3 linked regions of the Homo sapiens genome follow. The protein of the gene in region 2 purifies or fractionates together with the protein of the main gene of each other region. This does not show direct contact. Each region holds a gene or a part of one and is shown on either strand. Other genes may lie near its edges.

Region 1 (3,500 bases), on a different chromosome or scaffold from region 2:
GGTGGATGGTGGGGTGACCCTGGAGTGTGGGTGGAACCAGGCCACGCTGGGCCTTGGATCCCGGGGTCTGTCCCAAGCCCTCTGCTTGTTCTTTTATTCAACAGACCTCCCAAGTCCCTGCTCGTGTCCCCAGCCCCGGGTTGGCTGAGTGCAGAGACTCAGACGTGAGTCAGACATGGCCCTGCTGTCAGGGCACACACAGTGATGGGTCAAGAAGAGCATACAGGTACATGGTGCAGACTGATGAGGGCTGTGATGGACCTGGGGGCTGCCAGAGCCCACAGGAAGCCCCTCTCCCAATCTGGGGTAGGCAGGGCACCTGGAGCATCAGGACGCTTTTGGCTGTAATTAACAGAAAACACAACTCTGAACCGGCCCAAAGTCAAGGGGGGTGCATTAGCCCATGTAGCTGCAAAGGTCTGGGGATAGTATGGAGATCAGGTGTGGCTTGATCAGGGGTTAGCTATTCCCTTCATTCTCTGTGGGCTGCTGGGTCTGCAGAGGGGCGGCAAGTTGGCTGCAGCCCTCCGGGTCTCATCTGCATACCCAGCTGCGCAGAGACTCTCACAGTGGTTCTGTCTTGAGAAACAGGATCTTCTGTCTCAGAAGTATCCTGGAGCCTCAGGGGCCTGAAGGGAGATGGTCAGGGAGATTGTCAGGGAGATTGCCTCGTGCTGATTAGCTCTGGCTTGGGTTTCTGAATTAACCTTTGAAAAGGGAGATATGATTACTCTTAGCCTAACTGGGCGGGCCCTGGGAGGCGGGACAGCCTCACCTCTTGCAGCTGGAGGGTGTGCAGGTGAGAGTTGCGCACCCGAATGATCACCTGGGTGCCCTTGCGCAGGGCAGCAGAGATGCTTGGTGTTCCCTAAAGGCTGTGTGAGGAGCCCTGAGTCTTGACCCACAGGAGAGGGGGTGACCCCAGCAGCCCTTTAGAGACCCCCTTGCCCTTTCAGGGTGCTGAAGGTTTCCTGCGGTTTGTGGGCAGGCCTCTGACAAGGTCCTGATGCAGGTCACAGTCAGCTTGTTTGGACTTCGCTGCCGCCACCTTCGGGGGTCTCATGTATCTGCTACCTGGACAAATGGCCTTGCGCATGCCGTCTTGCCAGCGTTGGGGACCCAGTGGTGGTTGTGATGAAGACTGGGTAGTGAGGGTCTGTATTAACGAATTCATGCATAGCTGAGACAAAAGAGTGGAAGTTACTTTTTATGGGATGCCACTGGGGGACCCTGGAATCCCAGCTCAGTAGTGACCCCCATTCAGCCATGAGCAAGATCTCCTGCCCCCATCATTCCTGGACTTTCCCAGGAGTCGCTGGCCAGTGTCTGCCTCAGGTATGACTGTGTGCAAGCTTCTTTGTCTCTGGGTCTTGGAAGCTTAGGCCTGGGTGGCATCAAACTCATTGCCTCCTTCTCCCAAGAGCCCTTTATCAGAACACCCAGTTCCAAAACGAGAGCCTGCATTGTGCAAATACCACAGCGAGCTCTTCCTCTGTATGCCCTGCACATCGGACTTGCCACTCAAATTAAGTTTGGTGCTAATTTGCCCGAGGTAAGTAGGTGTTAATTTGTAGCTACAGCATTAAGATAATTGCTGTGAGGGTCTATTTGTGTAATGTGCAAATATATTTTTACAGCAACAAACCATTTTGCTATGAATTATAAATAGAACAGTTGGGTGATTTGAATTTTCCTTTGCATAACATCCACTCTGCCAGCATGCCTGTTCGGGTCCATGTCTAATGAGGGGCTGCAGCTGGCCCAGCCCCACAGATGCTGATGGTGCCTCTGTGTCCTTGTCCCCGACCCTGGGGGGGATCCGAGAGAAAGGGCTTGTCAGGGAGGGTCGGGAGGGAGTTGAGGCATGTGCGGACTCACATGCAGGGCGAGGCAGGCTTTGGGGGATGGAGCTTCTGCTCTGAAGCCCACTGGCCAGGAGAAAGGGCCCACTTGTAATGTCTGGTTTATTTTCACTTCATTTTGATGATTACGAAGGACCTGCATGTACCAGGCCCTGTACTAGGCACCACGGATACTGTTTGAGCAAATCCAGGCATGGGCTTGGTCCTCGTGAAACTTTGATCTGCTAAGGGAGGCCCATGTTAACATTAGCAAAAGGATCACGGAAATAAGTGCCATCAGCCCTCCGTATTGGTGGCCTCTGTATTCGTGGGCTCTGCATCCGTGGCCTCTGTAACCGTGGACTCTGTATCCATGGGCTCCATATTATGGGTTCCTCATCTGTGGATTCAACCAACCGCGGATTTAGTGTATTGGGAAAAGAAAATAAATGGTTGTGTGTACTGAATTTATACAGACTTTTCTCCTTATTCCCTAAACAACACAATGTAAGAACTATTTACAGGCATTTACATTGTGTTAAGTGTTACAGGTAATCTAGAGATGATTTAAAGCATACAGAAGGATATGCATAAGTTATATGCAAATACTACACCATATTTCAGCAGGGGCTTGAGCATCTGTGGATTTTGGTATCTGCCAGGAGTCCTGGAATGAATTCCCCAAGGGACGTCTGTAAACTTGCACCTGGTTGAGAGCTATGAGTAATGGATACAGGGAGCTAAGAGTATATGGAGAGGGGCCTGCCATGCTCCTGTTTGGAAAGAGAGAATATGTTAGTCAATTTTTACGCTGCTGATAAAGACACACCCGAGACTGGGTAATTTATAAAGGAAAGAGGTTTAATTGACTTACAGTTCCATGTGGCTGGGGAGGCTTCACAATCATGGTGGAAGTGAAGGAAGAGCAAAGGAACATCTTACATGGTGGCCAGCAAAGACAGAGTGAGAACCAAGCAAAAGGGGTTTCCCCTTATAAAACCATCAGATCTCATGAGACTTATTCACTACCATGAGAACAGTGTGGGGGAACCCCCCCCAACTCATAATTCAGTTACCTCCCACCAGGTCCCTCCCATAATGTGAGAATTATGGGAGCTACAATTCAAGATGAGATTTGGGTGGGAACACAGCCAAACCATATCAGAGAATTGTCTTAACAGAGATCAGAAGGACAGACAGGAGCTGACCTGCAGGTGGGGGCTGTGGTATAATGAATCTTAGCTGAGCACAGTGGTTTGTGCCTGTGATCCCAGTGAGCCGGAAGGCTGAGATGGGAGGATCACTTGAGGCCAGGAGTTTGAGACCAGTTTGGGCAATATAGTGAGACCCAGTCTCTACAAAATACATGAAAAAGCCAGGTACAGTGGTGTGCACCTGTAGTCTCAGCTACTCGGGAGGCTGAGGTGGGAGGATCGCTTGAGCCCAGGAGTTCAAGGCTGTAGTGAGCTATGATCATACCACTGTACTCCAACCTGGGCAACAGCATGAGACCCCATCTCTAAAACAAAAAAAAATCTTTGTTAGGTCTTTGTCCCTGGTTCCTGGCAGAGCTCCTAAAACCCTTGGAAGAGCATCTTTTGTTACTCATTATGAACTCTCTCTCTCTCTTTTTTTTTTTTTTTTTTGAGATGGAGTCTC
Region 2 (4,049 bases):
TCAGAGTGGGGCAATTAACACCAGACCTCCAGTCTAAGCCTCCCAGATACCAGGAATCACTTCAGACACATGAATTTGGTAGTGGTGTACAGGGTGAATTAAGGCCCACTTAGAAGACTCTTGCAAATAATCCAAGAAGGAGCTCATTATGTAACCCAGGATCCCCAGGTTTTTGGGGGTATGTGCTATGAAAAAGTATCCACCTGTAACTGTTGCACCTTGAGTTCTTGCTGTTTCAAAAAGTTCCAGGAAGATGGGAGGCCAAGGTGGGTGGATCACCTGAGGTCAGGAGTTCGAGACCTGCCTGGCCAGCATGGTGAAACCCCCCTCTACTAAAAGTACAACAATTAGCCAGGCATGGTGGTGCATGCCTGTAATCCCAGCTACTAGGGAGACTGAGGTAGGAGAATCGCTGGAACCCGGGAGGCAGAGGTTGCAGTGAGCCAAGATCGCGCCATTGTACTCCAGCCTGGGTGACAGAGTGAGACCCCGTCTCAAAAAAAAAAAAAAAAATGTATTAGCCTGGTGTGGTGGCAGGTGCCTGTAATCCCAGCTACTTGGGAGGCTGAGGCAGGAGAATTACTTGAACCCAAGAGGCAGAGGTTGCAGTGAGCTGGAACTGCACCATTGCACTCTAGCCTGGGCAATAAGAGCAAAACTCGGTCTCAAAAAATAAAAATAAAAAATAAAATTTTTAACAACCAATTATTTTATCTTAGGATAAAAATTTACCATATAATTTTTAATACATCAATTGTATTTTCCTAAATTTATATTTTGATTAATAGACCGAAATACTTTTAGTCCTTTTATAAAACCTAAGAAGCCAAGAACAAATGTCTATGTATTTAGCAATTTTTTTTTAATTTGGATATGATCCAGACATTTAATGAGTATCATTTAACATAATTTTAAGATTTTAAAATTACATGAAAAGCTCATTTATAAATGTTTATTTCATTTATAAGATTTATTTCTCAATTATTCCTAGATTTATGAAAATTGAGATAGAACTAGTCATTGTTTTTATTAATCAGTTTTATAGACTGTTACCATGAAGTATTTATCTTGATATTAAGGTTTAAGTAAGAACCTTAAAGTTAAAAACAGCCACCCTGTTGCTAACTCAGAAAAGTTACAGCTATTTTTATTAAAACAACAATATAATCATATTTATTTAAAAACTATATAAACAAAGATCATTTTGTTTTAGGCTTTATGACTTTAAAACATCTAGCAGAGGCAAATATAAAACTGTCTGACCAGTAAACCCAGACAAAAATGTCTGCTGACAATTTTGAAGACATTTCTAATTTTATTTTATCCACAATTTTAAAACCAATTAATTTATCAAAGATTTACTTAAGTCACATCAACTAAAAAAAACTGGGGGTTAATTACTATACATTTTATATGAGTGCTCATTTATTTAAACCAATCAGAATAAAATTTGTTAAGGGATTTCTGGCTGACTACACCAGCTTTTATGTAGATACAACATTCAACATAATATATGTACATACACATAAACACATTTAAACACATATACATAAAGATATTAAAACTTTTATTTTAGAATTTTAGTCATGATATAGTAAAACACGTAAATTCACCAGTTTATAAAAATGATTAGATGCAAATTATTTTTCTGACAAAATGGGCTAAGGATAAGCTTTAAGCTTTTTTAATAGGCAATCTTATAAAGGCTGTAAATCAAATTTGGGATAAAGCAGTTTGAGTCACTCACCAGTGCACTAAATTGAACAAAAAATAGTTAACTGTGAAAGTGTGCTGAATTATGTGAGTAGGACCAAAAGACAAGAGTGATTTTTAACAAGGTTTATACAGTATTTTCTTGGACTCAATTCTTTGTCATTGAAGATAAAAATGCTGCTATTCTTTTTTGTATAGGGAGGAAGGTTTTACATGGGAATTTAATCTTTGCTTTAAAAAAAAAACAGTAGGAAGGTCAAAATGACTTTGTTTTATATCTGCTGGTTTTCAAGTGTTTTTATTTAAGTAGTATGTTAGAATAGCTGTTTAGAGAAGGATAAAGAGGGGATACTGTAAGAAGGGGAGGGGAAAGGTCTAGAAAAGAAAGTTTCAGCCACCTTTGAGACAGTATTTTTTAACAAGGCAATATTTGTATCCTGAATGTGTTTTGTTTTTGTTTTTATTTTTTTTTAGCCTCAAGATATCAATGAAATATGCATATCTTATTTGGAGTGTATGATTTTATAGCCTCCATCTTTTAGTTCAGTTTTAAGAAAAACAGACTAAATGATCCCTGTAATGTTTGAATATGTTACTAGCTGGAGTTCCAGAAAATATTCTGGCATGCCTTTGAACTTTGAGAGCTCATTTCGTGGGTGCTCTGATTTAATGTCAACTATGCAAAAGCCAAGTAAATGCAAGCACTGAATACACAAAGGCCAAATAAATACAAGACAGGACAGAAAATAAAATACATGCTTACCAGTAAGAATGATAAGCCTTCTCCAAAGAAAGGGAAAAATTCCCTCATCCAAGCCTCAAGGTCCAAACCTCGCAGCTGAGGTCAACAGGGGGAAAATAATTCTACCCAACAGATCTACCAAACAAGAGGGGGAAAGACCTCTCCCTAATCATATCCCAAATAAAACAGAACTCGAACCATATCTGAGAGTTCTGTCCAAGAGATACTTACTGGAGGGAGAAAGGATTACCTGTGAAAGTGGTGGGGGTGTAGGGGGTTCAAAGGGCCCCAACATGGGTACCTCATGCCATAACTCCAAAGGCCAATGATTCTCCATGAGGTGAGTCAGCTTTGTATCCCACTTCTGACACCATGCATGTCAAAGTCAAAATGAAAATGTAGACACAAAACTAAATTTAATGTTTTGAGAAGAAAGAATTTCAATTCTAGGTGATCTTTAGTATGTCCAACAAACAAAGAGAAGGTTGAGGGTTTTATTTAAAACTAAGAATGTTACTTGTGGTCTTTCTTTTTTTTTTTTTTTTTTTTTTGAGACGGAGTCTCGCTCTGTCACCCAGGCTGGAGTGCAGTAGTGCAGTCTTGGCTCACTGCAAGCTCCACCTCCCGGGTTCACGCCATTCTCCTGCCTCAGCCTCTAGCCTCCCGAGTAGGTGGGACTACAGGCGCCCACCACCATGCCCGGCTAATTTTTGTATTTTTAGTAGAGATGGGGTTTTACCATGTTAGCCAGGATGGTCTCAATCTCCTGACCTTGTGATCCACCCGCCTCGGCCTCCCAAAGTGCTGGGATTACAGGTATGAGTCACCACGCCCGGCCAACTTGTGATCTTAAGAGAAAGTTCATTGGTATTAGTAAAGCCCTGGGGAGCTGGCAAGCTCCAACTGGTGGGCAATGGCCATAGGTAAAATTAGTCCTAGAGTTACAGCAAGTTATCTCAGCAGCTATAGACAAAACTGGTCTCAGGTTACAGCAAGCAGTTTCAGTAGCCAGGCTCACAGAGAATTACATTCTTGGAGCAATATTATGTGTCCCAAGTACTTTTTCCCCCTAGCTTCTTGAGTCTGTTTTAGTTGGATGTGACAAGAATGACTCAATTAATATTATCAACTTGCACAATTATAAAAGAATCACCATTTTATGTAAGCACTTAGGCTAAAAAAATAGTAAAAACATCCTATGTGGCCAGCAGCCTTGAAACAATAGAATTTAGTCAAATAATGATTACCTGCATAAGATATGCTTTCCATCTAAGTAGTTTCCCCAGTGATTTTTGCCAGTATTCTAATTCTACACGGAGTAAACACAAACTGTAAATGTTAAGAAATTGCCCATGGCATAATAATCACCTTTCAAATTTCTCATATGTTAAGGCTACTTCTTAATAATTATTATTCTCTAATAATTTGGAGTTACAGAGAAAGTAAGATTCCTTCAAAGTTTGGTGAGTTTGCTGGGCGCAGTGGCTCACGCCTGTAATCCCAGCACTTTGGGAGGCCGAGGCGGGTGGATCACAAGGTCAGGAGATGGAGACCATCCTGACTAACACGGTGAAACCCCATCTCTACTAAAAAA
Region 3 (3,500 bases), on a different chromosome or scaffold from region 2:
ATTAAAACATGCAATGAAGGAGTGTTTGGAAAAATGCATTGAGCAAAATATAACTTCCATTTCCTTTCCTGCCCTTGGGACTGGAAACATGGAAATAAAGAAGGAAACAGCAGCAGAGATTTTGTTTGATGAAGTTTTAACATTTGCCAAAGACCATGTAAAACACCAGTTAACTGTAAAATTTGTGATCTTTCCAACAGATTTGGAGATATATAAGGTAAGTTAATATCTTAGAAATGTCCTACTGTTCATTCATTCATTCATTCATTCAGCAACATCTGTTTAGTATCTACAATGTAAGATGCAGGGGATGCAGGGCTAGGTGCTGTACAGTGTGGTGGTGTTCTAACTTGGTGAAGTTTAATTTTTACAGATTGTCCACCTCTGACCTAGTAAAACATGTCATTATAGAAGCCATGTTTGGCAAGACACGGTGGCTCACACCTGTAATCCCAGCACTCTGGGAGGCGGAGGCAGGCGGATCACCTGAGGTCGGGAGTTCTAGACCAACCTGACCAACATGGAGAAACCCTGTCTCTACTAAAAATACAAAATTAGCTGGGCGTGGTGGCACATGCCTTTAATCCCAGCTACTAGGGAGGCTGAGGCAAGAGAATAGCTTGAACCTGGGAGGCGGAGATTGTGGTGAGCCGAGATCACGCCATTGTACTCCAGCCTGAGCAACAAGAGTGAAACTCCATCTCAAAAACAAAACAAAACAAAACAAAAAACAAAGAAGCCATGTTTACCCACTACCTAGCTTCTGTCTTTTCTTTTAATGGCACTTATTCTTCCCTCTGCTCCTTAAAGGTAAGCAACCTTCTAGTTTCAGTGTGGGGTCCTTGCCCCTCTCTCATCTCTCTCCCTTCAAGAACACAACTGTTCTTACAACTTCTGTGAAGTCCTGTCTTCTTAGCCAATCCTCTCTCATTTCCACTTGGATCTCTGACCGTCATCTCAAATCCAGTGTATTTAAGGCAAATTCTTTGTCTTCTCTCTCTCTCTCTTTTTTTTTTTAAACAGATGTGATCTTGCTCTGTTGCTCAGGCTGGAGTGCAGTGGCACAATCATAGCTCACTGCAGTCTTGAACTCCTGGGCTCAAGTGATCCTCCCACTCCAGCCTCTTGAGTAGCAGGCACTACAGGCACATGCTACCATGCCTGGCTAATTTTTAAATTTTTTGTAGAAAAGCAGTCTTACTATGTTGCCCAATCTGGTCTTGAGCTCCTGGGCTCAAGTGATCTTCCCATCTCAGCCTCCCAAAGCTCTGGGATAATAGGTGTGAGCCAATATGCCTGGCCTGTCTTCTCCTCCTCAATCAGTTTTCCCTCTAAAATCCCCATCAGTCTCAGCTTTGCCTCTCGCTGGCTATATAACCTTGGGCAAGTTAGTTTACTTATCTGTGCCTCAGTTTCCTCATCCTTAAAAGAGGGATACTGATTACCATCTTATGGAGCTGTTGTGAAGATGAAATGAGTTAATACAGGTGGGTGAGGTGGCTCACGCCTGTAATCCCAGCACTTTGGGAGGCTGAGGCAGGCGGATCATCTGAGGTCACGAGTTTGAGACCAGTGTAGCTAACATGATGAAATCCCGTTTCTACTAAAAATACAAAAAATTAGCCAGGCGTGGTGGCACACACCTGTAATCCCAGCTACTCGGGAGGCTGAGGCAGGAGAATTGCTTGAACCCAGGAGGCGGAGGTTGGAGTGAGCTGAGATCGCACCATTGCACCCGGGCTTGGGCAACAAGAGTGAAACTCCATCTCAAAAAAAAAAAAAATGAGTTAATACCTGTAAAACACTTAGAATAGTACCTAGCACAGAGTAGAAGGTTAGCTGTTACATCAACTGTAATGAGCTGTAGTTCACTGAGTGCTGAATTGTTACTAAATTCAGTGAATTGTTTATCTTTTCTTTCCAATTTCTTTAACAGCAGTGGTATGCCTGGCTAGTTTTGCCATGTCTCCAGTACTGCCCTCAAATTCAACCCATTCTTTTTTAGCTCATCTGTAGGTGACCTCGGAAGGAAATCAGCTGTGGTCTAACACATTTGGGGTCCATGTGTTGGAGGGGAGCTTGTCTTATGTGTCTGAGTGCACTTCATCTCAGCTTTTTGTTTGGGTGGACAGATCAAGCTGAGTTCCTAGCATGTGAATAAACTGTGATATTTTCAGCATAATTAGTATATATTGCAGTGCTGTTCTGCCTTTAAAGTACCGACCATCTCTGCTTTATTCTCACTTAGCTGGCATTTTCGAGAAAGACTTTAATGATGTTAGGGAAGAATAAAAAGGAAAGGAAATAAGATACAGCAACCTAAAATAGGTTTTCAAGATATAGGTTTCTGATTCTGCCAACAGCAACATCCGAGTTTTAGAGAGACTTCTCGGCATGTGTCTGGATTTTGGATATAGAGGGCCTTGCAAGGTTTGCCTTGCAGAGAGTGGCTGCAAACATTAGTTCTCTGACTGCTCATATTCCCACCTCTTGGCCTGCTCTATGTGCATGGTTGCCATTTTATCTCTGCCTATATGGAAGTGAATTTATACTTGTTCCAGCTTGCTCTTTCTTGGAGCAAGTATAAAAGTTCTTATTCCTTCTGCTGCCCAATTAAACACGGGGAGATTTGTAGCATTTGCTGATTTCTGTGGCTGCTTTCAAGCTGTTGATATGACATCACTGAAAACAGATTTAGAAGAGATGGTCACAGCAAGCTGTCTTGAGTCATTGTATGCCAGCTCCAGTATCCCACTGCGCCTCACCCACAGCTAACTGGTGAGATGGTGGTGCATGACCCAAGGAAGTAGCTCACCTTCTGATAAAATGAATAATCCTGTCCTTCAGATGAAGTTCATCAGTTTCCCATGCAGAGGATTATCTCTAAGCCCAGATAGGTGCCCTGATCACCTCCCTGAACTATTTCTTTTTTTAATTTCCTTTTTTTTGAGACAGGATGTCGCTCTGCTGCCTCGGCTGGAGTGCAGTGGTGTGATCATAACTCCCTGAAGCCTCAGCCTCCCAGGCTCAAGCAATCCTCCCATCTCAGCCTCCTGAGTAGTTAGACCTACAGGCATGCGCCACCATGCCTGGCTAATACTTTTATTTTTTGTGGAAGTGGGGTCTCACTATGTTGCCCAGGCCAATCTCAAACTCCTGGACTCAAGTAATCCTCCCACCTCAGCCTCCCAAAATTCTGGGATTACAGACGTGAGCCACCGTGCCCAGCCCCTGAACTTTATGAAGCACCATTTTCATACAAGAGGAATTAACCACATCTAGAAAAGAAGGTTCATTCTCTCCAACATACAAACAAAAATATGCATGACAGTTTAAGAAAAATGGAAAGATCAACCACGGTCTGAGCGCTCCCCCAGGGACTAATAATAAAAATAGTGCCGTAGGGGGCCGGGCTTGGTGGCTCATGCCTGTAATCCCAGCCCTTTGGGAGGCTGAGCTGGGCGGATCACCTGAGGTCAGGAATTCGAGACCAGTCTGGC

Evidence for each region. Proteins that work in one complex are often made in the same cells at the same time.
Region 1: the proteins of RBM43 (region 2) and ARHGAP8 purify together in Homo sapiens (affinity purification with mass spectrometry; one large-scale study listed by BioGRID and IntAct). This does not show direct contact.
Region 3: the proteins of RBM43 (region 2) and PARP9 purify together in Homo sapiens (affinity purification with mass spectrometry; one large-scale study listed by BioGRID and IntAct). This does not show direct contact.

Annotation. Positions count from the first base shown.
Region 1 is NC_000022.11:44,759,075-44,762,574, forward strand, and holds part of ARHGAP8 (rho GTPase-activating protein 8), read left to right. Parts: intron 1-3,500.
Region 2 is NC_000002.12:151,246,390-151,250,438, forward strand, and holds the end of RBM43 (RNA-binding protein 43), read right to left. Parts: 3' UTR 1,551-4,049; downstream 1-1,550.
Region 3 is NC_000003.12:122,547,301-122,550,800, reverse strand, and holds part of PARP9 (protein mono-ADP-ribosyltransferase PARP9), read left to right. Parts: coding exon 1-217; intron 218-3,500.